Regions from separate parts of the Homo sapiens genome. Here region 2 is linked to region 1. Evidence: fine-mapped expression QTL. A gene starts in region 1. The other region holds a variant in brackets. All regions are shown on one strand. Distances are between the middles of the regions.

Evidence for each region.
Region 2: its variant is fine-mapped to the expression of BAG3 in sigmoid colon (GTEx, PIP 0.95).

Annotation. Positions count from the first base shown.
Region 1 is chr10:119,643,928-119,659,071 of GRCh38, reverse strand. BAG3 (BAG cochaperone 3) reads right to left here and starts at 7,692. Exons shown (of 4, transcript NM_004281.4): 1 at 7,217-7,692. The coding sequence starts at 7,396. RefSeq lists a silencer at 7,640-7,939 and enhancers at 8,140-8,219, 7,600-8,554.
Region 2 is chr10:119,676,069-119,691,212 of GRCh38, reverse strand. BAG3 (BAG cochaperone 3) reads right to left here. Exons shown (of 4, transcript NM_004281.4): 4 at 13,394-14,749. The coding sequence ends at 13,931. LOC124902513 (a long non-coding RNA gene) reads left to right here and starts at 8,542. Exons shown (of 2, transcript XR_007062312.1): 1 at 8,542-8,902; 2 at 9,475-10,063. It also overlaps the pseudogene TXNP1. RefSeq lists enhancers at 2,704-3,640, 3,641-4,577 and a silencer at 7,327-7,506. The variant C/T (reference allele first, on the strand shown) is at 11,451.

The DNA.
Region 1 (15,144 bases):
GGTCGGGGGAGTCAGCTACACTCCATACAAGGGGGATAAGAGGAGGCCTTGCTTCTAAGAAACAAGACCCCAGGCCTCTCTGAGAGCTGAAAGGCCCACGGACAGCCAGGACAGTCTGCTGTGTGGAGAGGCCACACACCTATCCACAAACACACTTCTACTCCACAGAGCAGGCTGCATATGTTTCCGGGAGTTCCACGCATGCATCAGTTCAGGCTTTGGGACGTTCGCCTCCCACACACCATCTTCCTTGATTCTCCCAACCCTGCTAACAGAAGTGTTGCTATGCCCACTTCACACAACGGGAGACTGAGGCTCAAGAAGGGTAAGTGCTTTGCCTAAGATCTCTAGAACCCAGGTTTGTCTGATGGTAAGGCCAGGTAGATGCTAACCTTTCTGCTACTCCTGTCACAGCTGTACACTGTGATAACATCCATGTGTCACTAACGTCTCCAAAACCTTCATCTCCCGGGGTAAAATGCAGCAGGAGAGGCAGCAGGAGAGAAAGGCTTCCATTTCGCCCAGCCACGCTCGGCTGAGGCTCAGACCTGGAACATTCAGTTCAAGTGTGCTCTGGGTCAGGGAGCCAGCGCTCCATGCTGAGTCATCAGGCCAGCCAGGCAGGGTACACGAGAGTGAGAGCACTCAGCTTAATTCTGAGTCACCACAGCCCCAAGACTGCAGGGACGCCCGGCATGGAGCGCTGTCAGAACCGGGGAAGACACCGTCCAACCCAGGAAGGAGTGCTAACCCCGCTGGGATGCTGGGGGTCTGAACTGACCCTGAAAGGGTGGGCCAGCGAAGGGGCTGGCTTTTCTTCTGCACATGAAGGGGCCTTCCCATCCTCCCACTGTATGAATTTTTAAACCATCCATTCATTTATTCATTCATTCAATGTCAAGGAAGAATTTTTTAAATAACTGAAAAAAATATATAATTCTACTTTAATAAACACTGAGGAAGATACTTTAAAACAGCAAACGTTTGTTCTCCAATTGAATGCTAAGGAATTTTCCGTAAAAAGTCTCCCCAGTTCACTGGGGCACAGCTCTGTGCTGGGAGCTCTTGGACAGCTGAGCTGTTTACAGGCTCCTGACGCACAGAGCTGGCACTCTGCGATTCTAGGCTTTTCTGAATTGACAGTGAATAAGAACCTTCACGTATACGGTGTCTGATCTTGCTGCCAGCCACACGAAAAAAAATTTTTAAGAGACTCTTTTCACAGTGCCAGGGGCTGCTCTCTGCACAGCTATGGAAGTAGGGTCTGGCTGCTGCCAGCTCCCAGCCTCTCCAGCCCTGCTGTAAGATGCTGTGTCATTGGGAGAAACAAAAAAGAGCTTCTCCAGACCTGTAAGGATGAACTTAGGGAATCAATACTGAAGTCCTTTGTGCAGAGAAGGCCATTCACAAAGTGACAAAAAGGAGCAGGCCTCTGGGGACCTTTAGGAGCCCAGGACAACTCTGCAGTTCTTAGGAACCAATGGAAGGCTTCCCGGGACACACCTGCATCCTTCACGGGCAGCTCTTCTGTATCTGCCTTCGCGCTCTGGGCAGGCCCATGTTCTACCCTTCTCCACAGTCACTCGTTCCATCTTTTCTGAGCCTGTGGACCCTGCCAGGCATCAAGAGGCAGCGATGAAGCACACAGACTCTGCCCCAGAACTCCTAACAGGGGTGTGACCCCAAGACAAAGCAGAAAAGTGCAGAGCTTAAGCAAAAAGATTCAAATTAAAATAATATGGGTTCCAGAAGAGAGACAGCCTGCTTCGGACCAGGGAGAGGCAGGACATGCTTTGTGGAGAACAGTCTCAAAGTGGGCAGACTTGTCCTCTATATGGCATTTAACACTGTGACTCGCACACTGTGGGCACTCAGTGAATTTCAGATGGGGTAAAGGAGTGAGTAAAGAGTCGGGCCCATCTCCTAAATCCAGACCCAGGTTCAAGAAACAGGCCAACATTTCTGATTAACTATACAAAGATGGACTCAGGGCTGTTTATCACCTCAAGCTGTGCCTGGGGAGTATAAAGCAGCCGTGCCTGGGGAGTATAAAGCAGCCAGGCCCGCTAAAGGCAAGTCTGTCTGTCACCCCTTCAGGAACTCAGATGGGGGTAAAGCCACAGAAGTCTTTCTGTTTATCACAGGCCAGGCACACTGCCTCTCCAAATCTGCTGTCCCATGTGTAAGACACTTCATAGTTTCTAGTTCAAAGAGCTGGTGAGGATTTAGAGATAAGGTTACCAAAAGCACCCACTCATATCTGGCACATATATATATATATGTGTGTGTGTTGACAGACAGAAAAATACTACATTCATTCCTCTCCCCCCAAATTCTTCCTAAGCTTTTGCAAGCTGCCTGGCTTCCTAAAAGGCTGCCAAGGTCCCAAAGATACCTTCATCGAAATACGTGACGACTTAGTAACACCAGATACCTCACATGGTATCACATGTGCCACATGATGCATACAGATGAATCCTGCACCTGCAAAACAAGGGGCTCTGGAGCCTGCCTCAGACGGCCGGCTGATGGGCATGGTGGCGCTCACCTATAATCCTAGCTACTTGGGAGGCTGAGGCAGGAGAATCGCTTGAACCCAGGAGACGGAGGTTGCAGTGAGCCAAGATCGCACTACGGCACCCCAGCCTGGGAGACAAAGTGCGACTCCGTCTCAAAAAAAAAAAAAAAAAAAAGAAGGCCAGCTGAGTCTATGCTCTGAGGCAGAAGCAGATCAGAGGTGTCTACTTGACTCACAACAAAAGGGAACCCAGGAGGGGCTGGAGAATAACACGGTCAAGTGTGACACAGGGTTCACTCGTGTTCGCCAGTGCCAGAGGGTCTCAAAGATCCTAATAAGCAAGGCCTTTGTCTTCAGTTTCTTCTGTAAGCTCTCTTAAACATTTAAGAGCAATATTAAAACAGCAAAACTTAAAGGAGAAAGAGTAGGTCTGGATGATGAATGGTTTTCTACTTTGGATGATAAACATCAGAACATCATTTTTAAATGTCAATAGAAAGTAATAAACATGTAGAGTGGTTTATATAAGGTGACTGTGTGTCATTCCAGAAACGAGGACAGCACTAAGCAAGCCTCATGGGTGGTATGAAGCTTTCTGACTCACAAGCAGCCCTGATAGCATCCAACAGTTAAGCCTTCCCAGCCCTGGCCAACGTCAAACGCTGCCGCAGGTCCTGTGTACAGGCTCCACCCTCATAAAGGGCAAATCTACCCTACAAAACGGGACAAATGATGTTCTCGGAGGTGCAGTCGGTTCTCATGTGAACAACACAGGCTGTTCTTCAGAGGGGAAAATGAAAGTCCTGGATGAGCTGGGCTCCAAGGCATCTGGCCATGCTGTTCATCTGCCCCCCAACAAATCACTTTCATGCAGTCGCACAGGAACTTGCTCAGCCACAACTGCAACTTGCTGGAAATACGAAGGAGAGAACGGCCACTCATTTCCTGATTGTGCTCCGCCTCTGCTAAGAGGCATAACAGCTTGCAATAGATCTGGAAAGAGCAAAACGATCTCATCTTTAAGAAAATTCAGGAGGCTCTGCTGAACCTTAAGCAAAATAAATGGGTCTCTCTACTTCAATCATAACTCGAAACATTTCCAGTGTTATCTGAAAGGATGTTTCTATCTCCCTGTCACAGTGCCTGAGTATAATCTGTTAAATGATTATGGTGAGATTCTGCCAGATGGGCAAGACAAAAAGAAAAGGCTCTGGCTTGCTTCTTCCTGGGGTCCAGGAAGATCTCTGGACCACCTCCCCACTCTCGCACTGCCAGCCACCCTGCCAGACTTTGCAAGGTGCTGTCTCGGCTCGCTTCCCATGTCATCCCCATATTCACACCTCCAGAAGCCCGCGTACCTGGGGAGTTTCCCCAAGAAGGAAAATGGAGGCTTGGGAAAATGCTCTGCAGGATAGATGTTCAGGAGGCACTAAGCCGCAGCTCCTCCTCCCCAAAATGGGATCACTGGCCATCCGTGGCTCCCACTGCCAGTGCAGCAGAATCAGAACCACCAAAAAAGCTTTCTGGACTTAATAGTTTTCTGGGCCCTACACTGAGCAATTCAGATTTGAACATGGGGTTGGGGCAGGGAGGCGATGAGACACAGCCACAATCTGTGTTCTTAACAGGACTCCCTGGAGAGTGCCAGACTGGTAACCCCCAAGATCCATGGAGCTAGAGCGGCCCTGCTCCATGAGGGAGGAAGGTCTCCCTCTCATCCCAAGGAGGCCTGGCGGGAACAGCACTCCAGAACATCCGGCCTCTGTTTATTCAGGGAGGAGCCTGGAGGAGTGGCTGCACCAGCACTGAATGCCATCCTCTGCCAGGAAAGGGCCTGGACTGGTATGAACTTGCCAAATTAGTGGGAAGCCCAAGTGTGCAGAAAATCAAAATCCAGGAAGACTGCAGGTGGGGAGGCCCAGCTGCTTAGAATGGGGCTGGATGAAGCCCAGCATCTTTGCCGGGAGCCGTCCTGCTTCAGCAATGACAGAAGATACTTGCTTTCGCTCTGCCCCTCTGTGAAAACAGGGAGTTGTCCTAACTACTTCAGGAGAAGGCGGAAGATCAACTGCAAGACGGCAGTAGAAGACGAAATAAAATACAAAGGTCTAGTCTTTTCTTTCCATTTTCTTACTAACGTGATTAAATTTTAAACATCCTGAAGCTGAGTCCTCCCCCAAAAGAGAGGTCGTCTCTTGAGCTCCTCATGCTCAATGAACAGCTTTTTACTGATTGACAGCATTTCCTCTTGAAGATGATGATGCTCAGACGGGCCTCAGCTCAGCTCCTCCAAAATCGCCCTTTGTTTTCTGCAAGGGCCTTTTTCTCATTATGCATTGAGAAGCCAATTTCAAATACAAAATGATATTCAAGGATTTTCCACTACATTTAGTCTCCAGTAAGGTGTAACTCACACAAGTGCAACCTGATATTGTGTGTGTCAAAGCACAGGATTGAAAGCAATGAAGCACAAACAGCTCATGGGCTGAATGTTAGTTTTCTCCTTAAGTTTTGGTGCCATGCTGACAAGTCTCAAGTCATTCACTTGGTAAAGGGAACTCTTTTCTTGAGTTCATCAGTCCCATCATCAAAATCCAAGCAACCTCAGCACAGAGGTCAGTGACCCAATAACTTGGTGGCCAGGAGGGCACAAAAATAATCAAGTATTCTAGCCTGCATGCCTCAGTTTCCCAAAACACTCACTTCCAACTTCTGAAGAGACACACTGCCTCTTATTAGGACTTTCCTGACACTAGTTCTCTCCCTGTTGTTGGTACTAGCTGGATGACCTTCAAAGTCACACCTGAACTCTCTGGGTTTCAGAAAATAAAGAAGCCTAACATAAGAGATCTTCAAGGACATTTCAACTTTAAAATTTTGACCGTGAAATTTTCAAATAAATCTTCCCAGCATCAGACTTCTGATTTAGTAGTTCTTTGTATTTGCTGACAAGAATAATGGTAACTAAACCTGCTTTTTTTCTTTTAATAAGGTTTATGAAATCACAGCCTAACCCATGCACCAGGTGGGTACAGGAAGATCTCAACTTGCTGGGTAAGTTTCATGCTGAGAACAAAGTGCTGGGAATGTTTATGTTCAAACTTGATCTTCACTCACAACAAAGGCTGCCAACAGATACCACTATCCCTATGTCTACAGGAAGAAGGCTTCAAAATAATAGTTGTAAACCACACTAAAGATCATGTACATCCACGCAGACTCCTAAGAAAGGTGGTTTGAAATGAGTGTCAGTTTCACCCAAAAATGGGTGGAACAGACACACAAAAAGGTATATGTAACTGTGCCCATCCCAGCTAATTACAGCCTCTTGTACTAATTTTCAAGAATAAATATACAACTAATCTCTCGTAAATGTAAACTGCTGCCTGTACACGGTCTCACTGCTGGGCACCGGAGTTTTATCAATATTGTTAAAACAAAAAGTGCATAAAGATGAAGGGAAATAATACAGGTCTTTCTTCTAAAACAATGGGTTACACAGCAGTTTTAATTTGGTGAGTTTTTAAATCTTCAAAATAATTTACCAGCTCTTTGCTGCTTTTATCTTGCCCAGACGGCGTTAACAATTCAGCTTTAAGTATAACATATTTATTTTAAAAACTTTTTATCCTGAAAGCTCAAATTTATAAAAAATTGAAAGAATAGTATAACTAACTCTGATTTTTGAAAATTAACACACTCATTCCAAATTTACATTTTCAAATTTCATGCTCTTGGGGATTAAGAAGTATATATCCTTGCATGTATGTAAATGAGACATACTTCTGCTGTATTCACAAGAGTATCATTAGTCAGTTATTTGTGTACTGGTAACAAATCCTAAGTATTTTAATACCATAACAAGGCAGGAAGCGAATGCCATTATAAATATACACGTATCATTCTCTTTCTCTCCAGTGTGAGGCAATGTGGTAAGGCAATGGCCAACTGTAAGACAGTCTCAGATCTCTAGTCTAGATCTCTAGAAACTGCTGGGGAGAAGCACACCCTGTTTTTTATTTTACAAATCATACTAGGATACGTTCATATTGAAAGCACTTTCAAACAATAATACAATTTTAATTTAAAATACACACACACACATATATATATGAATGTTTTGACACCAGCCTCCAGAGTCATTGGGTGCCTAACATGGGACAGTAGCCAAGATACCCCTCAACCAAGTTGGAGAACTTGAGCGGTAAAATTCCCCCCAAAACCACCATCCAAGCTTGCGAGTGTCCCCCTCGAGTCCGCGGTCAGCAGGGTGCGCCGCGGGTCCCGGGCCCGGAGGCCGAGCGGGCAGCAGGGGCCACGGTGGGCCGGGGCCTCCGGAGCTGACCAGGCCGGCCGCCCCTCTCCCAGCCCTAGAGCGCGAGGCCAGCGCTGGACACCCGGCCTTCCGCCCTGGAGTCGAGCCGTGGACGGCACCGGAGCCACTGCGGGGTCGCTTCCCGGGCCACCGAATCCCGGGGCCTCCTTTCGCCCCGACGCCTGTCAAGGGCGGGTCCGGAGCGGGGACTCGTCCGGGCGCAGCGGGAGTGTGTGGCGGGGCGCGGAGCCGGTGTCCGCCCGCGAGGGGCCTTCGCCGACCCCCGGGCCCCGCCGCCTCGCGTCCCCCCGGCCCAGCCCACTCCCCGCCGCCTGCCGTCGAGGTGGCGCCACCGACCAGGGCGGGCCGCGGGCCCGGCTCACCTTGGGGCCCTCAGAGGGCACGCGCGGGTCGTTCCACGTAGTGGTGCGGCTGTTGTGGTCCACGAAGAAGGGCCAGCCGGTCTGCGGGTCGATCTTGATCTCCCATCCGGGGGGCAAAGGGTCGCGGTCACCGTTGCCGGACGCCACCTGCATCATGGGCGAGTGGGTGGCGGCGCTCATGCTGGGTTGGGGTCTGCCCGCTGGGGCGCGGGTGCGGGGCGCTGGCTCCGGGCGCCGAGTCTCTGGCCGGGCCGCCGCCGTGGGCCCCTCTCCGCCGCCGACGTGTCCGGGAAGCCGGCGCCGGGCACCTTTATGAATTAAAGGCGGGGGTGACGTGGCCAGAGAGGGGTGGAAGTGTCTGGAAATAGCCTCCTCGCTGCCAGAGGGGAAGGAGGAGATAAAGGGAGGTAGCAACTGGCCGGCTAGAAACTTCTGGTCCAGTCCAGAGAAGTTGGCCGCGGCCCGGGGTTGGATGCGGAGCTCCGCCCTGAGTCATCGGCTATAATCGCGGCGGGCGGGGCAGAGGAGCGGGGGCGGGGCCTCGGCCCGCTCGCCCCTCCCCCACCTCCTCCCGCCCCTCCCCCTTCCGACTCGTGCGCGTGCCCGGGCCGGAGTCGCCGCGGGCGGGCGCGGGCGCGGCTTCGGGGTCCGCCTGCGGGTGGGAAGCCGGACGAGCTGGACTGGGGCCGTCCTCCGTGCGCCCCGGGCGGGTTTCGGCTTTCATAGTCGCTCTCTCCCTCTCCTTTGCGCCGAGTGAGTGTTCCCGGGGCCGGAGCCCGTGCTCCCCGTGCCTGCCGCCCGTCCTTCCTGTACAAACAAAACCATCTCGCCCACCTCCACCCCCTCCCCCATATATGATAGCCGAGGACCCTGAGGGCTGTCCGGGAGGAGCGCGGGGACTCTCATCTGACACCGGAAGGAAGCCAGGGAGAAAATGGAAGTCAGTGCAAACTCACCTGCCTTCCTTTGGAAACTTCAAGAAAAAAAGAGATTGTATCAACTGATGGCTTTTAGTCTCCTAGACTAAAAAGAAAGTTTCGTTGCAGCTTTAAAGATAAATCACATTTTCTTGGGTCTGGATCTTTTTTATGGTAGAGATTGGTTCTTGCTATCTTATATCTTGACCCTGATTTGGGAAGTAAAGACCGAATAACCATGACATTTTTTGTTTGGTTTATTCAATTGCACTTGTAACCTGTCAAAGGAGAAAATTACAACACATTTAAAGATCTTTTTTGTTGTTGTTGTTGTTGATTTTCATTTTTTAACTTTTATTGTTAAAGATCTTATTTGTGATTCTAGAAATTGGGCAACATCTCCATTAAATTAGAATAAGTGCTCCCATGAGCTGAGCAGAAGAGGTTGGTTTTATAGACAGAGAAGGGCTGAAGAAAGCAGAAACAAAGAACCAAGACTGGATTGGTTGTTTCAAAATTACTTTCCTTGTAAGGAGGGGACAGAGAGACAGAATCATAGAAAAATAACTGATGAGGGCTTGCCACCATGGCTCATGCCTATAATGCCAGCACTTTGGAAAGTCAAGACTGGAGGACCTCTTGAGTCCAGGAGTTTGAGACCAGCCTGGACAACACAGTAAGACCCCCATCTCTGCATAAACAAAAAATAAGCCAGGTGCAGTGGCTTATGCCTGTAGTCCCAGCTACTCAGGAGGCTGAGGTGGGAGGCTCATTTGAGCCCAGGAGTTTGAAGCTGCCATGAGCTATGATTTTGCTCTTCATGCCAACCTAAGCGACAGAGCAAGACCCTATCTCTTTAAAAGAAAGAGAGAGAAAGAAAGAGAGAAATGATTGAGAGAAATGTAACATCAGGTTACATACTTCAGATTACTGTACAGTTGACCCTTAACATGGGTTTGAATTGAGCAGGTCCACTTGTACATGGATTTTTTTTCAATAAAAGTTACACCGATGTGCTTGCCTCTCCAGTCTCCCCTTCCACCTCCTCCACCTCTTCTGTCTCTGCCACCCCTTGACAGGAGAATCAACCCTTCCTCTTCCTTCCCCTCCTCAGCCTCCACGTGAAGATAATGAGGATGATGACGTTTATGATGATCACGTCCACTAAATGAGTAGTAAGTGTACTACTCTTCCTTATGTAAATGTAAAATCTCTTCCTTATGATTTTCTTAACATGTTCTTTTCTCTAGCTTACTTTATTGCACGAATACATATAATACATATACAACATATGTGTTAATTGACTGTTCATGTTATTGGCAAGGCTTTCCGTCAAGAGTAGGCTATTGGTAGTTTTGGGAGATTCAAAGTATGCAGGGGCGGGGCATGGTGGCTCACGCCTGTAATCCCAGCACTTTGGGAGGCCAAGCGGCGGATCACTTGAGATCAGAAATTTGAGACCAGCCTGGCCAACATGGTGAAACCCCAACTCTACTAAAAATACAAAAATTAGCTGGACGTGTGGCACATGCCTGTAATCCAGCTACTCGGGAGGCCGAGGCAGAACTGCTTGAACCCAGGAGGCGGAGGTTGCAGTGAGCCAAGATCATGCCACTGCACTCCAGCCTGGGCGACAGAGCCAGACTCCAGTTCAAAAACAAACAAACAAAAAAGTATGCAGGGATTTTCTTTTTTCCTTTCTTTTCTTATTTTATTTATTTTATTTATTTATTTTTTTGAGACAGGTTCTTGCTCTCTCTCCCAGACTGGAGTGCAGTGGGGCAATCTCAGCTCACTGTAACCTCTGCCTCCTGGGTTCAAGCGATTGTCCTGCCTCAGCCTCTTGAGTAGCTGGGATTACAGGTGTGCACCACCATGCCTGGCTAATTTTTGTATTTTTAGTAGAGACAGGGTTTTGCCATGTTGGCCAGGCTGGTCTCAAACTCCTGGTCTCAAGTGATCCACTCGTCTCCGTCTCCCAAAGTGCTGGGATTACAAGCATGAGCCACCTCGCCCAGCTTTGCAGGGATTTTCGACTGCACGGAGTTGGTGCCCCCAGCCACCTCCTGTCACTCCCCAACCCTCACCCCTCATTCGAAAGTAGCCTGTTTGGGAAATTAGACTATCACCTCTCCTGATTTCTCAGAAAGTCAGATAACAACTTGGTTTTGGTTTGGTGATGTGGAACTTTAGCATGAGTGACTCCTTTCTGATTTTTCGTCGGGTTTGTTAAGGCCAAATGCAGGAGCTTAGTCCAAAACAGTGACCTCTTATAACTTTTATTTAACAAACGTCAATGAGCACCCCAATTCCCCTGGGAAAGAGAGACTGTGTTCCAGAAAGAGAGAATGTTTGGGAGGTGACATTTTAGATCTTTAGACATACTGACTCATTCCCTTCCCCAGAAACGCTTTGAACTAATATTGGGCCTAGTTTTCAATTCGGAATCAGAGAATATCCTCGAACCCCAGTCAATACCTCTGCCCCTTCCTGCCCTCAGCTTACTCCTTCTGGAGAAAATGCCAGAGAGGCCTGCCTATCATTTCCAATGGAATGATTCTCACTTGTAAAAGTATGCTTATCCGCTTTGGAGTCCAGTAACTCCAGTGATGATCAGGCCCCAGGGACTGATGCAGGTCACCAAACATGTTAGAGACAGGTGTATAAACCCGAATGTCAGTGCACTAGTTTCCCATAGGAAATATTACTGTTGAAGGAACTAGACCCCCAAATTCACTAGTCAGTGTCTGCCTTATGCTTCCTTATGTCTGCAGCCCTGAACCCAGAGTCCATATTCAATAAATGTTGATGTTTATCGAAGATTGAATCCAGAGTGAAATTTTATTTCTATCTTCTTCCTTGCTCAATTTGCTTTCCACTACAGTTTAAGTAACTACAGTTTAAATAAACACAGAGGCTGGGTGTGGTGGTTCATGCCTGTAATCCCAGCACTTTGGGAGGCAGAGGTGGGGGGGATCACTTGAGGTCAGGAGTTTGAGACCAGCCTGGCCAACATAGTGAAACCCCGTCTCTACTAAAAATACAAAAATTAGTCGGGCATGATGGTGGGTGCCTGTAATCCCAGGTACTTGGGAGGCTGAGGCAGGAGAATCGCTGGAACCCGGGGAGCGGAGTTTGCAGTGAGCTGAGATCACGCCACTGCACTTCAGCCTGCGCAACAGAGGAAGACTCTGTCTCAATAAACAAACAAATACTGAAAGTGGTGTTGGCCATTTTTCCCCTGAAAGAAGCAGCAGGGAGGAAGCAGGTTACTCTGGGATTAACATAGCTGCTTCTGACAGTTGCTCTGGAGGCTAAAGCAGCTCCATCCTGGATGCTCATCTGCCATGTTCGTTTCTGATGAACCCGTTCCAGGAATGCCTCTAAGATTTCTATTTTCACATACTTACCCTTCGGTCAAAATAACGTTGGTGTTACTGTAAACACATACTTACTATAAATCCTGCCTGTGGCGAATTCCCTGTGGTATACAAGCCCTGGGACTTCAGGGTAACAGTGCAGGGACCCGCCATCTTGTCTTGCAGCCATCCAGGACATGGCTTGTGTTTGTAAGTCCCTATTAAGTGTTTCTCTCTGAGAAACTGGATTTGTCCACCTCTTTCTTCAGCTTCTCAGTTTCCTCAGCCTTTGAGGGTAGGTGTGCATAGACCTGCTCACCGCAGAAGAGTTATCCTCCGCTAGGGACTTCCGCAGGGTTTGTCTAAAACAGAGACACAAGTCTTGGAGAGCTGGCTGGAAGAAGCTGCTTTGAGCCACGTTGAATACTGAGCATCATGTCTGTCCTCGGTGGCTTTTTCTTTTCTCCAGGCCCTCAGACACTCCCTCTTTAGGCCTCCTGGAGTTCATCTGCCCAGATCAGAAGCTTAAGCATAACCCTAAATTTCTTTTGCCCCTCACCATTTAATTATCCTTTTTTTTTGAGACTTGCTCTGTCACCCAGGCTGGAGTGCAGTGGCGTGATCTCGGCTCACTGCAACTTCCGCCTCCCTGGCTCAGGCGATTCTCCTGCCTCAGCCTACCGAGTAGCTGGGATTATAGGCACCCGCCACCATGCCCAGCTAATTTTTGTATTTTTAGTAGAGACAGGGTTTCACCATGTTGGCCAGGCTGGTCTTGAACTCTTGACCTCAGGTGATCCTCCTGCCTTGGCCTCCCAAAATGCTGAGATTACAGATGTGAGCCACCGTGCCTGGCCCATTTAATTATCCTTAAATCTGTGGATTCCACTTCCTAGATATTCCTTGATTGTGAACTCCTGTCTGTCTTTAGTGCCACCAACCCGTCCAGGTTACCTTTGCCTGTCATCTGGATCTTGGCACGGCCTCCTGATGGATCTCCCAGACTCTAATCTTTGTGTGTGTGTGTGTGTATGTGTGTATGTGTGTGTGTCTGTGTGTGTGCGTAAGCAGTTGGTCACGTAAACCAGCCTCTAATCTTGTTCATCTCCAATTCGTTGCCCACATGGTAGCCAGAGCAATCTTTCAAGCACAAAACAGGCCTTGCCCCTTCTCTGCCTAGAATTCTTTAATGCCTCTCTGTTGACTCCACACTCCTTGGCTTGGTGTACACAAGACCTTCCTCCCCTCAGCCTGGTGTGCACTCTGGCTGGCCTTGCTGCACCATATCATGCAGGCACTGACACAGCCTGCCCTTGCCTCTGCCCACCCTGCTTCCTCCACCTGGAGAGCCCTTCTCTCCAACACCCAATGGCCTCCCGCTCTCTTTGCCTGGCTGACCCCCCTTCATCATCAGGTATTACCTGTGGCATCTCTCTTCTTCATCCTCCTGGTCTGAGTCATGTGTCCCTTCTATTATGGCAAAAACTGTGATTACTTTTGCACCAACCCAATAGGTGCTCTGCAGAAAGTAAAAAGTTTCCTCTTCGAAGCTTCCCTTCTTGTTAAAGAATAAATCATAAATGTTAAAAATAATAGTTTCTTTTAAAGACTAAACTTCCTTCAAGCCTCCTTGCTTTGTGCTAGTAACTCTTTGTTAAGCCTTGTCCTATGTAGCTGTTAGATATAAAAGAATAAGTACAGTTGGCCAGGCACGGTGGCTCACACCTGTAATCCTAGCACTTTGGGAGGCTGAGGCAGGTGGATCATGAGGTCAGAAGATCGAGACCATCCTGGCTAACACAGTGAAACCCCGTCTCTACTAAAAAAATACAAAAAAAAAAAAAAATTAGCTGGGCGTGGTGGCCGTCGCCTGTAGTCCCAGCTACTCGAGAGGCTGAGGCAGGAGAATGGCGTGAACCCGGGAGGCGGAGCTTGCAGTGCGCTGAGATCACACCACTGCACTCCACACTCCAGCCTGGGAGACAGAGCGAGACGCCGTCTCAAAAAAAAAAAAAAAGAATAAGTACAGTCTATGTCCTTGTACTTTAACCAAGATATTTGTACTAGACGTGCTCACAGGCACATTCCAGCTTGCAGCCTGTGCCCCTTCCTTATTTAAAAATATTATTACTTTTCTAAGTCCTTTCGCAAGCAACTTCCTCTTTTCCTTTGTTCTCTGTTGCTTTTACCTATTTAAGAAAGTTTTAAATTATTAGCAAGTCGGATTTAATTTAGACTGTGAGGTCCCGCTCCAGCCAATAGAGACAGGACACAGTAGCAGAGACAAACTGCATAAAGGATAAAAATTACTTCCCTTCTTTGTTCAAGTGTGCTCTTGCTATTGTTCCATCTGCAAGGAGCACCCTTTCTGCAGAAAGTAAAATTGCCTTGCTAAAAAAAATTTTTTGTCTAAATGCTAATTTTTCCTTGCCGTACCAAGGAACAAGCACTCTGTTTCTAAATAAACATTTTCCTTATAACATGCTCCCTTATACATCCCATGCCACCCTGTCAATTGCACTGAATTGCAATTGCTTGTCTGATGGTCTAATGTGTCCATGGATTGAGTTTCATGAGGGCAGGAGCAGACTTGTCAATCACCACTGGGTCCCCAGCCTCTAGCATGGTGCCTGACAGACAGTAGTTACTAAAGCAACAATAGTTGTAATGGCTACCATTTATTGAACATTTACTGCATGCCAGGTACTGTGTGAACGGCTTTGTGTGGATTACTGCATTTAATTTTTATGGGAGAAGCTGTGATGCGTGCTGCCCAGATCCACTTTCAGGGATGAGGGACTTATTCCACCTACTGTTGGGGATGCTGTAGGAAGCTGAATCTCAGCTACCTATGGGGACTGATGCAGCTGAAGAAAACTGCCTCGCCCAAGGTCACACGTCCCTCCAGGGACAACCTGCATCTAGTGACTGATTTATTGAGGGGCTTAGAGGCCCAGCCCCTTCGGTCCAACTCAGGATAGGGCTAACGGGCTACCCCGGCTCCAGAGCGCCCTCTGGGGTTGACTGCTGCTTTCTTTGGGACTGCATCACAGCTCAGCTTCTCCCTCTGCACAGTCCTGCTTCCTGTGTTGCTCCTAGGAGAATTCCGTAATAAAGTCCAGCTTGCTACCTCTCATAGTCAGCTTCCTGAGGAACCAAGCCTGGAACAATCCTCTCAGCAGCCTTCTGGGTAGGCGTTATTATGATTCTCCTTTTACAGATGAAGCAACTAAGGTTTGGAGACGTTAACACAAGGCTCTTGATTTGTGGAGGCGGGATTTGAATTGTGGCAATTGACGCCGGATCCCACGCTATTAACCAGGAGCTCAAACATAAGTGAATCAACGGCTTAGTCCCACTTGTCACCAAGGGAAAAAATGTAAAAAGCTAGAATTGAGAAACAACGTTTTGTGCGAATGATTTTTTCTCAATGCTGAGGAAACAGGAGCCGTAGCTGGCTGCTGTGGAAGATTATAAATCAGCCCTATTAATGCTGTGCCCAGGCCTGACTGACTCATAGCACAGGTCACAGACAGAGGACTCAAGCCCAGCTATAATGGTGAGTTTTAAATGAAAATGTCAACCACAAGATTTCAGCGTCTGGGTGATTTAATCCATTTCTATTGGAACACAAGAGCCAGCATAGGAGAAC
Region 2 (15,144 bases), 32 kb before region 1:
CTTGCAGGCTTTTGTTCACAATACTCCTGCTCCCCAGAAGATCCTCTTCCCGTTTCAGACTCTTAACTAGATTCCCCTTATCTGCTGTCTCTCTCTCTCTCTCCCCTCCAGCACCCGATTACTCTTCATCTTCTTAGCCTGTTGTGCTCTGTCCTGAGTTGCCCCAGCATACCGTATTCAAACTGCTGGTTTACTCGATTCACTGCCCTAACCCCCTTACCCCTATTAGGCCTGAAGACAATGGATAGGCTTTACCCATCTTTATATTCCAGTCTTAAACTCACTGTGTTTCTTTTTCTTTTCTTTTTTTTTTTTTTTGAGTCAGGGTCTCACTCTATGACCCAGGCTGTGGAGTGCAGTGGCACAATCATGGCTCACTGCTGCAGCCTCGAACTCCTGGGCTCAAGTGATCCTCTCACCTCAGGATCACTGACAAGGTCGCACCACGTTTCCCAGGTTGGTCTCCTAGGCTCAAGCAACCCTCCCGACTTGCCCTCCCAAAGTGCCGGGATTACAGGCAAGAGCCACCGTGCCTGGCCTACTCTCTGTTCTTAGCAACAATTAGAATAATGTCTGCCGTATAGTAGGTATCAATATACCTGTGTAATCCAGGTAGGACAGGCTCCTCTTCTGTATCCTGGAGTACTTCTTGCTAAAATACAGTGAGGAGAGATGAGACAGGAATTAAATATTCAGTCTTACTGTCTCTCAATTTTGAAACTGCCTCAGACCATAGGACTCTCTAAGTTTAGTGACACCTGGTAGCACCTCCATGGCAGGGGTGGAGGGCTGCAGCTCTGCTGGAGACACTCTCCCAGTTGATCAGAATGTGCTTACCACCCTTTTGGCCGCCTCACTAGTCTTTGCCAACCCAAACCCCACTGGCTGCTACGGAGTCCACAATGAAAGGGGTCCCCAAGAGAGTATTCTTGGATCTCACGCAAGAAATAATTCAGGGTGAGTCTGCAGAGTAAAGTGAAAGCAAGTATATTAAGACAGTAAAGAATATAAGAATGGCTACTGTGGCCAGGCGCCTGTAATCCCAGCACTTTGGGAGGCCAAGGCGGGAGAATCATGAGGTCAGGAGTTCGAGACCAGCCTGACCAACATGGTGAAACCCCATCTCTACTAAAAATACAAAAATTAACCATGTGTGGTGGCGCACGCCTGTAATCCCAGCTACTCAGGAGGCTGAGGCAGGAGAATCGCTTGAACCCAGGAGGCAGAGGTTGCAGTGAACTGAGATCGCGCTACTGCACTCCAGCCTGTGTGACAGAGTGAGACTCTGTCTCAAAAAAAAAAAAAAAAAGAAAGAAAAGAAAAGAAAACAAAGGCCGGGCATGGTGGCTCACGTCTGTAATCCCAGCACTCTGGGAAGCTGAGATGGGCAGATCACCTGAGATCAGGAGTTCGAGACCAGCCTGACCAGTATGGTGAAACCCTGTCTCTACTAAAAGTACAAAAATTAGCAGGGCGTGGTGGCGCGCGCCTGTAGACCCAGCTACTCAGAAGGCTGAAACAGGAGAATTGCCTGAACCCCAGGGGGGCGGAGGTTGCAGTGAGCCAAGATCATGCCACTACACTATAGCCTGGGTGACAGAGCAAGACTCCATCTCAAAAAAAAAAAAAAAAAAAATAGCTACTGCAAAGACAGAGCAGCCCCAAGGGCTGCTGGTTGCTCATTTTTATGGTTATTTCTTGATTATATGCTAAACAAGGGGTGGATTCTTCATGCCTCCCCTTTTGAGACCAAATAGGGTAACTTTCTGATGTTGCCATGGCATTGGTAAACTGTCATGGTGCTGGCGGGAGTGTAGCAGTGAGGTCACTCTCATTGCCATCTTGGTTTTGGTGGGTTTTGGCCAGCTTCTTTACTGCAGGCTGTTTTATTAGCAAGGTCTTTGTGACCTGTATCTTGTGCTGACCTCCTATCTCATCGTGTGACTTAGAATGCCTAACCTTCTGGGAATGCAGTGCAGTAGGTTTCAGTCTCATTTTACCCAGCTCCTATTCAAGGTGAAGTTGCTCTGGTTCACATGCCTCCGGCAGACTGGAGGTACAGATAGATTTCACAGAGCAGCCAGTATAGTCTGGATGAAGGAACAAAGGAAACGACACAGTTCCCTTGTACCGTTCATGCGGAAAAGGTCTTATAGAATTAAGCCTCCAGAAAGAGGGGGCCCACAAAGACCCTCCTTTTCTCTCCATTTCTCCATCTGCGCTCAATACCCCCCTTCCTGCCAACCCCTCTTTCACGCACCCAGACCTGATACCTTTCTCTTTTCCTCCAGATACTTCTCTCCGTAGTTTACCCTGTTACCCTAACCTTGTTGATTTTTTTTTTCTGCTTAGTCCATCATTTTCTCAGAAATGTGTCTTAACATCTCCCACTATGATTGTGGATTTGTCTATTTCTCTTTTTAGTTCTGTCAACTTTGTTATGTATTTTAAAGCTTTGTTCTTTATTAAGTGCTGCATATCATGTATGAAAAATTACAGATATAATTTGAGGCCCTAGATGATAGTAAGATTTATTTTTGCTTCTGGAAGGCAGTTGGGGTCTGGGCAGGCACCCTTAATCCAGTGGTTTTCAACCACAGGTGATTTTCCCCACCAGGGGACATTTGGCAATGTCTGGAGAAAGTTTGGTTGTCAGAATTTGGGGAAGGAGAGGTGCTACTGGCATCCAGTGGTTAAAAGCCAGGAATACTAAACATTGCATAGGATGGTCCACTGATAATGTCAATTTATCAGTGTCAATAGCACTGAGGTTGCGAAAGCTTGCCCTAATCCAATTATCAGAGGCGTTTGAACCAAAGTAACTCCATCTTGAGTAGGGGCTGCGTAAAATAAGGCTGAGACCTGCTGGGCTGCATTCCTAGAAGGTTAGGCAATCTAAGTCATGGGATGAGATAGGAGGTCAGCAGAAGATACAGGTCATAAAGACCTTGCTAATAAACCAGGTTGCAGTAAAGAAGCCGGCTAAAACCCACCAAAGCCAAGATAGTGACAACAGTGACCTCTGGTTGTCATCACTGCCACACTCCACTTGCACCATGACAGTTTACAAATGCCATAACAACATCAGGAAGTTACCCTATATGGTCTCAAAAGGGGAGGCATGAATAATCCACCCTTTGTTTAGCATATCATCAAGAGATAACCATAAAAATGGGCAACCGGCAGCCCTCGGGGCTGCTGTGCCTATGGGGTAGCCATTCTTTTATTCCTTTACTTTCCTGATAAACTTGCTTTCACTTTACTCTATGGACTCACCCTGAATTCCTTCTTGCTCCAGATCCAAGAACCTTCTCTTGTGGTCTGGATCAAGACCCCTTTCCTGTAACACAGTCAAACGGTAAGCCAATGGGAAGCTGGGTTTCAGTCTTTGTGAGAGTTTCTCTATTTTCATTCCTGTTCCTTCCAAAGGGTGAGGCCCTTTGGAAGTTGAAAGCTGGCGGCGACTACTTGAGCTCTTCCTTCCTTAGCATGAGACTGCTGGGAGCTTCTCTGCCTCATGAAATAGGCAAATGCCTCAAAATTCAAAGCTCTGCTAACCCTTCTCTCCAGGACCTTGACCCTCAAATCCTCACCCCCTTGGCGGCTCACCTTCAGATAGGTCTTGTTTGTTTTGCCAGCTTTTCTAGCTGCTCCGGATAGGAGGACTGATCTGCCAATCTGCCTTTAGGGGAAACAGCAAGAGATTGCCTCTCAGTCTTTTCTTGAAGCTTTCAAATGCAGGCTTTAGGCCTATTGTGATGCTAATGGATCTCCTCTGCCCTTACTTTGCCCATTCTGCATGGAGGGGGCAGCTCTAGTCCCCCAAGCATGAAAGAAGTTGGGTACTCCCGGTTCTGATCATTACTGCCACCAGGAAGAGCTACGGGGTGAGAGGGGGGATGGATTTCTCCCTAGTTATGTAAGAAACAAGCAGGTCTCACCCTTCATTTTTCCTTTCTCATACAAGGTGAAATACTGCAGTCTCATACGAGGAAGCATGTTTTTCCTGTTAACATTATTTCGATCCTGGTCCTTAGGGAAAAATAAGCCCGGCATTAAAGTGCGGGGAGCACTCACCTTCCCCCACCCCACAGTCTGGCTTATAGTGCTAGAACACCAACCAAGTGGTGACTGGGCCGGACCACAAATGGATGCGGATGCGGTCAGCTCCCGTTATGAGGATAGAATTCTAATCAGATTGTGGATCCGATTACTTCTGACTCATAAATCTCCCTGACTTTAGAAAACAGGGATATCTTATTTATTGGAGGAATGACAGTGTGAACAGAGGCGTGGCTGCGTTCTCACCAGCTGAGATAAACGCCGACCAGACCAGCACAGACATCCTGTGCTCGTTTCCTTTACTTGGTTTTTCAAATAAAGCCTTTGTGTGTCACTGGTATTGTGAGGAATACGAAATAATGAAAGAAGTGATTCTTCAGGTGAGTCATTCTATTATAAAATGGAGCCCACCGTCAGGAACTGCTCCCTGAGAGAGCAGGACAGGATTTCCCTGCGCGGGGAGTGAAAGCAGAAGGCGCAGTCACGACGCGCCCCCTACTGGTCAGCGAGGAGAAATCCCTCACCTCAGGTTTCAATTAGTGCGGGTGAGTCCTGAATTAGGAACCTCAGACCTGAGGCCTGGTGTGGTGGCTCACACCTGTAGCCCCAGCACTTTGGGAGGCCGAGGCAGGTGGATCACTTGAGGCCAGGAGTTTGAGACCAGCCTGGCCAATATGGTGAAACCCCGTCTCAGGTAAAATAACAAAAATCAGCTTGACGTCGTGGCACACACCTGTATACCAGCTACTCAGGAGGCTGAGGCAGGAGAATCGCTTGAACCCGGGAGGCGGAGGTGCAGTGAGCCGAGATGGCGCCATGGCACTCCAAAGAATCACAGAACTGGCCAGGCACGGTGGCTCACGCCTGTAATCCCAGCACTTTGGGAGGCCGAGGTGGGAGGATCACCTGAGGTCAGGAGTTCGAGGCCGGCCTGGCCAAAATGGCGAAACCCCCCTCTCTACCGAAAAATGCGAAAAGTAGCCGGGCATGGTGGTGCCCAACTACTGGGGAAGCTGAGGCAAGAGAATTGCTTGAGCCAGGGAGGCCAACGGAGGTTGCAGTGAGCTTAAGTCGTGCCACTGCACTCCAGACTGGGTGACAGAGAGGAACCTTGTCTCAAAAAAAAAAAAAAAAAAAAAAAAGAAAGAAATATTACTGAGAATCACAGAACTGAAGTGGAATTCCATGAATCCAATGGAATTACATTAAATTCCATGAGTAGGAATCCAATTCCATGAATGAAATTTCATGAATCCAATGGGATTCATGGAATTGCTGACACACAGTGAGATACTAAGGAGGCTAGGAGGCTAAGATGAAGAGCCCCTGTCTCAGGACTCCAGGGCCTAATTTAACAGCCACAATCTGCCAAGGTCAGAGGTAGCCTTAACGTGTACTGTACTCATAAATCAATCTCCCTGGAGATTTCAAACCTTCAAATTGCTTTGGTAAAGCCTTAACTCCTTTCAACCTGAGGAAGTCGATTGAAGAAAAAAGCCTTAGCTCTAAAGAAAGATTTTGAGTTTCTCATTCCAGTGGACCACAAAAAAATAAAAAAGAAAGAAAGAAAAATCGCATTTGTGCAAAATCAACCATTTACATTTTATACTAATCAGTAAGTTATTCTTGGGCCTCGTGCTTGTTTGTAAACACATGCCTTCTCTCTTTCATTCTAACTGGAAACTTTATCCTTAAATCTGTTCGTGCAATAATTATGAAATGTAATTTTATTTTTAAACAATATATTTTCTTTTGTTTGTTAATTTCTTACTTTTTTTTTTTTTTAGACAGAGTCTATGTTGCCCAGGCTGCAGTGCAGTGGCGTGATCTCGGCTCACTGCAACCTCTGCTTCCTGGGTTCAAGCTATTCTCCAGCCTCAGCCCCCCAAGTAGCCGGGATTACAGGCATGCGCCATGACGCCCGGCTAATTTTTTTTGTATTTTTGGTAGAGACGGGGTTTCGCCATGTTGTCCAGGTTGGTCTCAAACTCCTGGCCTCAAGTGATCCACCTGCCTTGGCCTCCCAAAGTGCTGAGATTACCGGCGTGAGCCACCATGCACAGACTCTTTTGTTAATTTCTTTAATTTTTAAATTTCTATTGATATATTATAGTTGTTCTTATCCTGAAGATATTTTGATACATGTATAAATGCATAGGATCAAATCAGGGTAGCTATCGATCGCCTCTATGTATTTTCTTGTATCTTGATCGTTAGAGTGAAATATAAGGAACAAAAAACAAACATGGAGAAGTTACCATGTTTTTAGTATTTTTAAATCCTAAGGGTTTGAAAGGTATATATTTGGGATAATGGGCCTTTTTGTCTTTTTTTGTCTGAAGGAAATTTGTGACCCAATAATTAGTCAAAATTATCTCCAAAAAATGTTAATGAAACTGGGCACCTTTTGGGAGACATTTTTAAATTATGTCAGCTACTTCAGTGTCAGAGGGTGGACAGAGTTGGCTGAGAACAGTCACATTTAGACAAGAGTCTTGTGTGTACTCTTTTGGTTATGAAAATGTAGGGCAAGTAAGCACTCATTGCCCTGAGTGAAAAGTGACATAAACATTTTTTTAAAGGGTTCATGAAGCCTGTCCCTCCCTTAATACCTCTTGATGGGAAAATTTCATTGTCAGGCTGGGGCTCACACCTGCAATCCCGGCACATTGGGAGGCCAAGGCAGGCAGATCATCTGAGGTCAGGAGTTCGACACCAGCCTGGGCAACGTGGTGAAACCTGGTCTCTACTAAAATTACAAACATTAGCCGGGCATGGTGTCGGGTGCCTGTAATCCCAGCTACTTGGGAGGTTAAGATGGGAGAATCACTTGAACCAGGGAGGTGGAGGTTGCTGTGAGCAGAGATTGCGCCACTGCACTCCAACCTGGGCAATAAGAGTGAAATTCCATCTTAAAAAAAAAAATTAAAAATTGAGAGATTTCACAGGAACAAATTTCTGGTCTTTCTGGAAAATTGGAAATCTCTTGTAACGCTGGACCAATGCCCCACATGACAATTGCTGCGTGGGGCCAAGCATCAGTCCCTGGCTCTGCCCCCAGACTACATCCAACTTGTGACAGCTTGGCTCTGTCAATCCTCCACCTGGCTGGCCTCTGTGAACTGTGGGATCGCACCTTGTGGAAGGCTTGTGCTGGGATAGAGCTGACTCAGTGCTGGGGGATCCCTGAGGGGACCCCAGGATTTGAATTCCAGGTTCCTAGAGGATATCAGCTGAATGCTCACCTTTCTGTGTGCCCTGTAGGCATAGATAAGTTTGGCATTCAGGAGAAAGAGGGTACCAGAGCTCCAAGCTCGATCCGGCACTTTTGGATCCGTTTCCATCGGTTCTTACAGCTGCTCCTCAGACCCTAGCAGCCAAGATGGTGAAGCAAATTGAGAGCAAGGTTGCTTTTCAGGAAGGCTTGGAGGCTGCAGGTGATAAATTTGTCATGGTTGACTTCTCAGCCACGTGGTATGGGCCTTGCAAAAAGATCAAGCTTTTCTTTCATTCCCTCTCTGAAAAGTATTCCAACATGGTATTCTTTGAAGTACATGTGGCTGACTGTCAGGATGTTGCTTCAGAATGTGAAGTCAAATGCATGCCAACCTTCCAGTTTTTTTTTGTTGTTTGTTTGTTTGTTTGTTTTTGAGATGGATTTTTCCTCTTGTCCCCCAGGCTGGAGTGCAATGGCAAAATCTCAGCTCACAGCAACCGCCATCTCGCAGGTTCAAGTGATTCTCCTGCCTCAGCCTCCCGAGTAGCTGGGGTTATAGGCATGCGCCACCAGGCCTGGCTAATTTTTGTATTTTTAGTAGAGACGGGGTTTCTCCATGTTGGTCAGGCTGGTGTCGAACTCCTGACCTCAGGTGATCCACCCGCCTCAGCCTCCCAAAGTGCTGGGATTACAGGTGTGAGCCACCGTGCCTGGCCCTTTCCAGTTCTTTAAGAAGGGACAAAAGTGGGTGAATTTTCTGGAGCTAATAAGGAAAAGCTTGAAGCCACCATTAATGAATTAGTCTAATCATGGTTTCTGAAAACATAACCAGCCATTGGCTATTTAAAACTTGTAATTATTTTTATTTACATAAAGTATAAAGTATGGAGACTATAAACCCAACTGCCATCTGGATGACAACAAAATATGAATTCTACTCTTTTTTAAAAAAAAAAAAAAGAAGAAAGAAAAAAAGAGGGTATCAGAAACAGACCCAGAGATGACTGGGGTCTGGGAGGAGGAAGCTGGAGAACCGGTGAGTGTGAACAGTATGCATCAGTCAGGGTTCGCCAGAGAAACAAAATACACATATACAGCGCTTGTGTGGTGGGGATGTGTATGTGTGTGTGGGTTTAATTTTTATTATAAATAGAGATGGGGTTTTGCCATGTTTCCCAAGCTTGTCTTGAACTCCTGGGCTCAAGCAATCCACCCTCCCCAGTCTCCCAAAGTGCTGGGATTACAGGCATGAGCCACCGCACCCAGCCATGTGTGTATTTTTTTTTTTTTTAAGGATTTGGCTCACATGATTGTGGGGACAGACAAGTTGGAAAGCTGTAGGGCAGGGCAAGTCAGGGCAGGGCAGCAGGCTAGAAACTCAGCCAGGGCAGATGCTGTAGTCTTGAGGCAGAATTTCTTCTCCTCCGGGAGAAATCAACCGATGGTAGATGTTAACCAAGTCTGTAGAATATCTACTCAGCAGCATCTAGTGCTGGAGTTAAATAGCTGGGTGCTATGGTCCAGCCAAGGTGCCGCCTGAAACACCCTCACATGGTGGGAAGAGCGGTGGTTGAAGAAGGAACCCTGGAGACCTTGATGTTGAAGAGAGGGCAAGGGAAGAGGGTGAGTCAGAGCCTGCTGGGGAGGAGAGCTGGAGACATTGCATAACACCAGTGACAGTGTGCCCACAGAAGTGGTTTCGGTAGGGGTGGGTGCAGGAATGGATGGCTGTAGGTGGATCAGGACGTGGGAGGTGAGGGGACTTAGCTGGCTCTTCCACGACATGTGATCAGAAAGTGGGGGTGGTGAGCTGGGGGTGGTGACCCGGGCACGATGGCTCATGACTGTAATCCCAGCACTTTGGGAAGCCAAAGCAGGTGGATCACTTGAGGTCAGGAGTTCAAGACCAGCCTGGCCAACATGGTGAAACCCCTTCTCTACTAAAAATAGATTTTTTTTTTTTAATTTAGCTGGGTGTGTGGCACATGTCTGTAATTCCAGCTACTCGGGAGGCTGAGGTGGGAGAACTGCTTGAACTTCGGAAGCAGAGGTTGCAGTGAGCCAAAATTGCACTACTTCACTCCAGCCTGGGCAACAGAGCAATACTCTGTCTCAAAAAGAAAAAGAAAAAGAAAAGTGGGGGCAGGGGGTAAAGTGAGGAGGAAGCATTTCTTTTTGGTTTGTGTTTTCTGTAGGCTAAGGACAAGAAAAGAGCCATTGGAGAGAGAAAGAGATGAAGTGGAAGACAGTGAGTGAGGGGCTGGCAGAAGGATTTCCCCTCTTCAAACTAGAGGAGAACTTCCTCAGCCTCCATGCAGCCGGCCAGATCCTAGGGCAAAGCTCTGGCTAGAGAAGGCAAGGACAGGCAAGAAAATGTTTTAGAAAAAGACCCTTTCCATCTGGAATGCTTTTTCCAACTCCCTTCACACCTTCAGGCTGGCTTCTAGTTGCACCAGGAACTCTGGGCCCACGTGTGAGGTGCGGGGGCAACACTGTCCATCGAGAGGACCTGTGGCTGCCTCCTCATCCCTTCCACCAAGCGCAGGATGGCACCATTGCTGGCTTCTGCTGCCCTCTGTTGTGGTCCTGTACCTCCTCACCTGCTCAGATGCTCCGCGGGGACTGATGGAGCTCTTCCTGGTCTCCAGTGGTTCTTACTGGGTAGTGCTGGACAACAGAGTACCAGGAAGGCAGGGACCTGGCCAAGCGCACATACGCATGAGTGGAGGAAATTTTACAATTTTTAGGAAGCAACAAAGTATAAAGTGGGAATTGCACATCTTCCTTACGTTTCTTTTGTTGTTTTTATTTTGAATTACGTATTGAGGGAAGCGCTACAATTTTTTCCATAGGTGGGTGTCTAGGGCTTCCCCAGCCCCGCTCTCAGCCCTCTGCACTCACACTTTTCAGAGCCACAGGATGTGTAAGGGCACCGGAATCACCAAGGGTGGGTGTGCCTGCTGGAGCTTTTTTTGTGCTGCCTGAAAGTTCAAAACACGCTGGAACAGGGAAAGAAAGGTATTTGCCCAAGTGACTAAGACATGTTCCAGCGTTTTCCCACAGGCTCCTGCACATCCCAAAATAACTGCAACCCTGGATCCTGTCCGTTGGCATTCGATTACATTTGTATAATGTTACAGACAGTGGGCAGGCCGGCCAGCCACACTCACACAGGGGCTTGCAGGACCGCACAGCCCATAATGGAGCTCCACGCTATGCTTCCTGGCTAGGCTGCTAAGGGAGAAATACCAAGGCAGAGACCACAACAGTAGCCAAGTGCAGACCTGCCAGAAACATCCAGATCACCAAGAGGGCCCTTGGGCAAGGCCCTCCTTTCACAGATGAGAGCAAAGGGCACAGAGAGAGGAAATTACTTACATAAATTAACTTAAATAAATTACATATCTGGGAATTATGAAAGTTGGTGAAAGAGTTGGCCCTCAACTCACAGCTCCTAAAGAGGTATTTATTTGTGCAGGAACATCAATTTAGCCTTAGAATCCTAACATCTTAAGTGGAAGGGACTTTTAAGCACTCCCTGACCATCCAGGGTGCTTCTGTGCCCAGGTCTGGACAACAATGTGGGAAGAAGGAAGTGTCGGAATGAACCTGCCACCCCTCCGGGGATTCTGTCTTGCTGAGGAAATGACTCAGGATGTTGAGAAAACAACTGGGTTTTGGCAAATGCACAGAAGGGTGCTAGGAGCTTTGGGAAGGGAGAGTCTGAGAAGGAATGCGTGGTCCAGGTGGGGAAAGTTTCAACCCAAGGTGGGCCTCAGAGTGGGAAGATCTGGAGGCTGGGCATGGTGGCTCACAGCTGTAATCCCAGCACTTGGGAGGCCGAGGTGGGCAGATCACTTGAGGTCAGGAGTTCAAGACTAGCCTAGCCTGGCCAACATGGCAAAAAACCATCTCTACTAAAAAATACAAAAATTAGCCGGGGTGACGCACACCTATAATCCCGGCTGCTCGGGAGGCTGAGACAGGACAATCGCTTGAACCCGGGAGGCAGAGGTTTCAGTGAGCTGAGATTGCATCACTGCACTCCAGCCTGGGCGACAGAGTAAGACTCCATCTCAAAAAAAAAAAAAAAAAAAAAATGGAGTCGGAAGATTTGGAAAAGCAGATAGAGAGGGCCTGAGCAGGCATCGCAGGAAATAGCCCTGACACT[C/T]GGTAGATGCTCAGTGGCTGTAGCCCCCCAATGCCTACAGGGGCCAAGACAGTTGTGTCACCAAGAGCGTACAGCTAGCTCTATGCCCTGCTCCCCACACAAGGCCCAGGGGCCACCAACACAGGCCAGATAACTCCCGTCCTGATGCCCACAGCATGTCTCATTTGGATGATTGAAAATATTCCAACCACATTAAACAGCTACTTATTTGATGATGTTTAGTGATAAAAATACTATCAACCTAATCCAGTAACCACTCAAGGAGGCTTAACGTCGTATGAGGTCCATTGAGTCCCAAAGAGAAGTGGTCACATCATCTTTGGTTCTTTTTTTTTTTTTTTTTGAGATCGAGTCTCACTCTGTTGCTCAGGCTGCAGTATAGTGGCGTGATCTCGGCTCATTGCAACATCTGCCTCCCAGGTACAAACAATTCTCGTGCCTCAGCCTCCCAAGTAGCTGGGAGTATAGGTGCATGCCACCACGCCCGGCTAATTTTTGTATTTTTAGTAGAGGTGGGGTTTCACCATGTTTGCCAGGCTGGTCTCGAACTCTTGACCTCAAGTAATCCACCCGCCTCGGCCTCCCAAAGTGCTGGGATTACGGGAATGAGCCACTGCACCCAGCCTGGTTCATTTTTAAAATAGTCTAGTATTTTTTTTTTTTTTTCCTATTTACATGTTCGAGTTTCTAGAATCAGTGGCATGTCGGCTTGTACTCCCCAAATGAGTTCACCCAGGAATGATGTTGGCAGATTCCCATGGGAATGACTTCAGCCTTCCTCAGCAGGCTAACAGTGGCAAGCACACCAGGGTGTATTTTTGTGCAGCATCGTCAGGCACCAGTATTAAACTCAATACAGTCATGAGAAATTCAGCTCGGGGGCTCTTAAGTCAGCACTTCACTGAGAGTTCCAAGGTCTCAGGCCTTTCTCTTTTCACTTTATTTGGCAAGTAGTTAAATAAATAAATAAAATAAAAATAAAAAATAAACAAATCCAGCACATCTCCATGCTGTGGGGCTGTGGTCCCTCCCAAGGTTAAAAAAAAAAAAAAAAAGCCACTGGCACAGCAAGAAGAATCTCCTTCTACCCAGGCCTGAGTGTATCTCGTCCCTAACTCCAGAGGCTTCTAGGAACCCAATCCAGGAAGATAAATCTGGTCTCAGTTTGGTTTGGTGACTCACAAGGTGTTAATAAAGATGACCCCAAGATTCTCAGAGCACATTTCCAACCCCCAGTGACCTAGACTCCAAGGAACACTTTGGCCAGCCTTGGGCAATAGTGGGAGCTGGCTTCCCTGTGCGCTTCCTTTTTTAATTTTTAGAGACAGGGTCTCAACTCTGTTGCCCAGGTTGGAGTGCAGTGGCGGGATCACAGCTCACGGCAGCCTCATCTCTTGGACTTAAACTATCTTCACGTCTCAGCATCCCTGGTAGCTTGGGACTGAAGACGCATGCCACCACCTGGCTGATTTGTTTTTTGTAGAGACAGGGTCTTGCTATGTTGCCCAGGCTGGTCTCAAACTCCTGGCCTCAAGGGATCCTCCTGCCTTGGCCTCCCAAAGTGCTGGGATAACAGGTGTGAGCCATTGCGCCAGGCCCTCTGGGCACTTTTGGACAATCTCAGCTTCTTGGTGAGGCCTGAGGACAGGTGGGCAGACATGCTACCTAACTGGCACCTTGGCTGTTGGCTGGGTCGGTCCGAACGGATGCAGCAGGCATGTTCCCATTACCGGAGTTCACAGCCCTGAGTCTTCCCAGGTTCCTGTTGCAATCTGAGACTGAAAGGTGACCAAGACAATTCTCTCTTGAGCCGGGCTATTGGAGACGTCACAAAACCCAAAGCAGGCTTGTTAAATGCACCTGTCATTTATTCTGACTGAAACCAGGGACAGACAATCTCCATGATGCCACTGCTTTCAAAGATTTAGAAACCACAAAAACCATTTTGAGTTATATTATTACTTTATTTTCTTTTTTTAAAATGTAGCATTAAAGTCATCCAACATACAGATATTCCTATGGCTCCTGGCACATTTTACTCTCTCTAAAGTCAGGTATTTTAATTATGAGATGAAGAAAATCATCTCATTAAAATGGCAACATTTCTGATAAATGTTTCATATTTATGTGATGGGTAATTGACTCCCCATCTACCCCTCCAGTCCAGAGCTACAAAAGACAGTGCACAACCACAGCTAACAGGTGGTGGGGGTGCCCAAGTAGACAGGGCTGCAGAACAACAAGCAACGGGGTTAAACTTCTCAAACAACAAGCAACTTCTTTATTTGTACAGAGTAAGAATATAGAAGAAAAGCATCATTTTCCTTTTTAGCCCTTTTATTAGTGTTTTGCCTCCACCCAAGTTACTGCATACCAAGCAGCTAATAAAAACCAACTGACTTAAAGTCTCTGAAATGCATGCAACTTAAAATTCCCTAAAGCACACATCGGTTCCGAGTCTGATTTTTACAGGGCAGAGGCTACGGTGCTGCTGGGTTACCAGGGGTGTCTGTCATGCTGCTGGGGTTTGAAGTCGCTGCTGCTGTGGCTTCTGGCTGCTGGGTTTCTGTGTGGGGATCTTCTGCATTTCCAGCATTTTTCTTGCCCTTGTCTGCTGCCACGGCACCCATCTCCATGATTGCCTGCAGTGGCTGATCTGCTTCAAGGTTGCTGGGCTGGAGTTCATAGACCTGGACTTGACCTGGGACATCAATGGCTTTCTGTTCAAGTTTTTCCAAGATGGTCTGAACCTTCCTGACACCGTCTCTCCTGGCCTGACGCACATCGGCTCGTCCCTCGGGGTCCACTGAATCCAGGGCCAGCAGCTCTTTGGTCAAATACTCTTCGATCATCAGGTACTTTTTGTCAGTCTTCTTGCCTTCAAAGTTGTCTACAGCCTGCTCCAGCCCCTGTACCTTCTCCAGGATGGCTTCCACTTTCAGCACTCCTGGATGTTTTGGGGGAGCCTCGGCTTCTCCTGGTTTTGGAGGTGTAGCTTCTGCAGGGGCAGTGCTGGGGGCTGCCCTCTCTTCTGTAGCCACACTCTTGGGGGAAGAGGGGACAGCAGAAGGGCCAGGGCTGGGAGGAGGACAAGGAACTGGAGCAGGGGGAACTTTCACCTCTACCTTCTCAGAGGGAGGTGGGGGCTTCTGGGAAACAGGTTTAGAATCCACCTCTTTGCGGATCACTTGAATTGGGATGTGTCCAGGAGGGAGTTCTGGTCCAACTGGGCCTGGCTTACTTTCTGGTTTGTTTTCAGGCTGGGAAACAGGTGCAGTTTCTCGATGGGTCATGGGCTGCTGAAAAAAGGACACAAAAATATATTTTTAATAACTGACTGAAAGTCACAGAAATTGTTTGTAGCTAGTACAGATTAGAAAGAAAACTGAGAAATGGCTTTTTAAAAAAAGTTTAATAGTATAAAAGATTTTCAAAGTCAATCAATGGCTGTTACAAAATAAAAACATGGTATTAATCATGTATGTAACCCAATCATTAGTCAGGCTTCCATTGATCACCCCAGGCTATTTGTCTATTACCTCTCACTGAATTTCTCTGTAGATGGTATTCTTAATGGCAATGAAAAGAAACCCAATAAAATTTTCAAAAATGAAAATAGCTAACCTGGGCAATATAGTAAGACCCCAACCCTACAAAAAATCTTTAAAAATTAGCCAGGTGTGGGAGCTTGCAC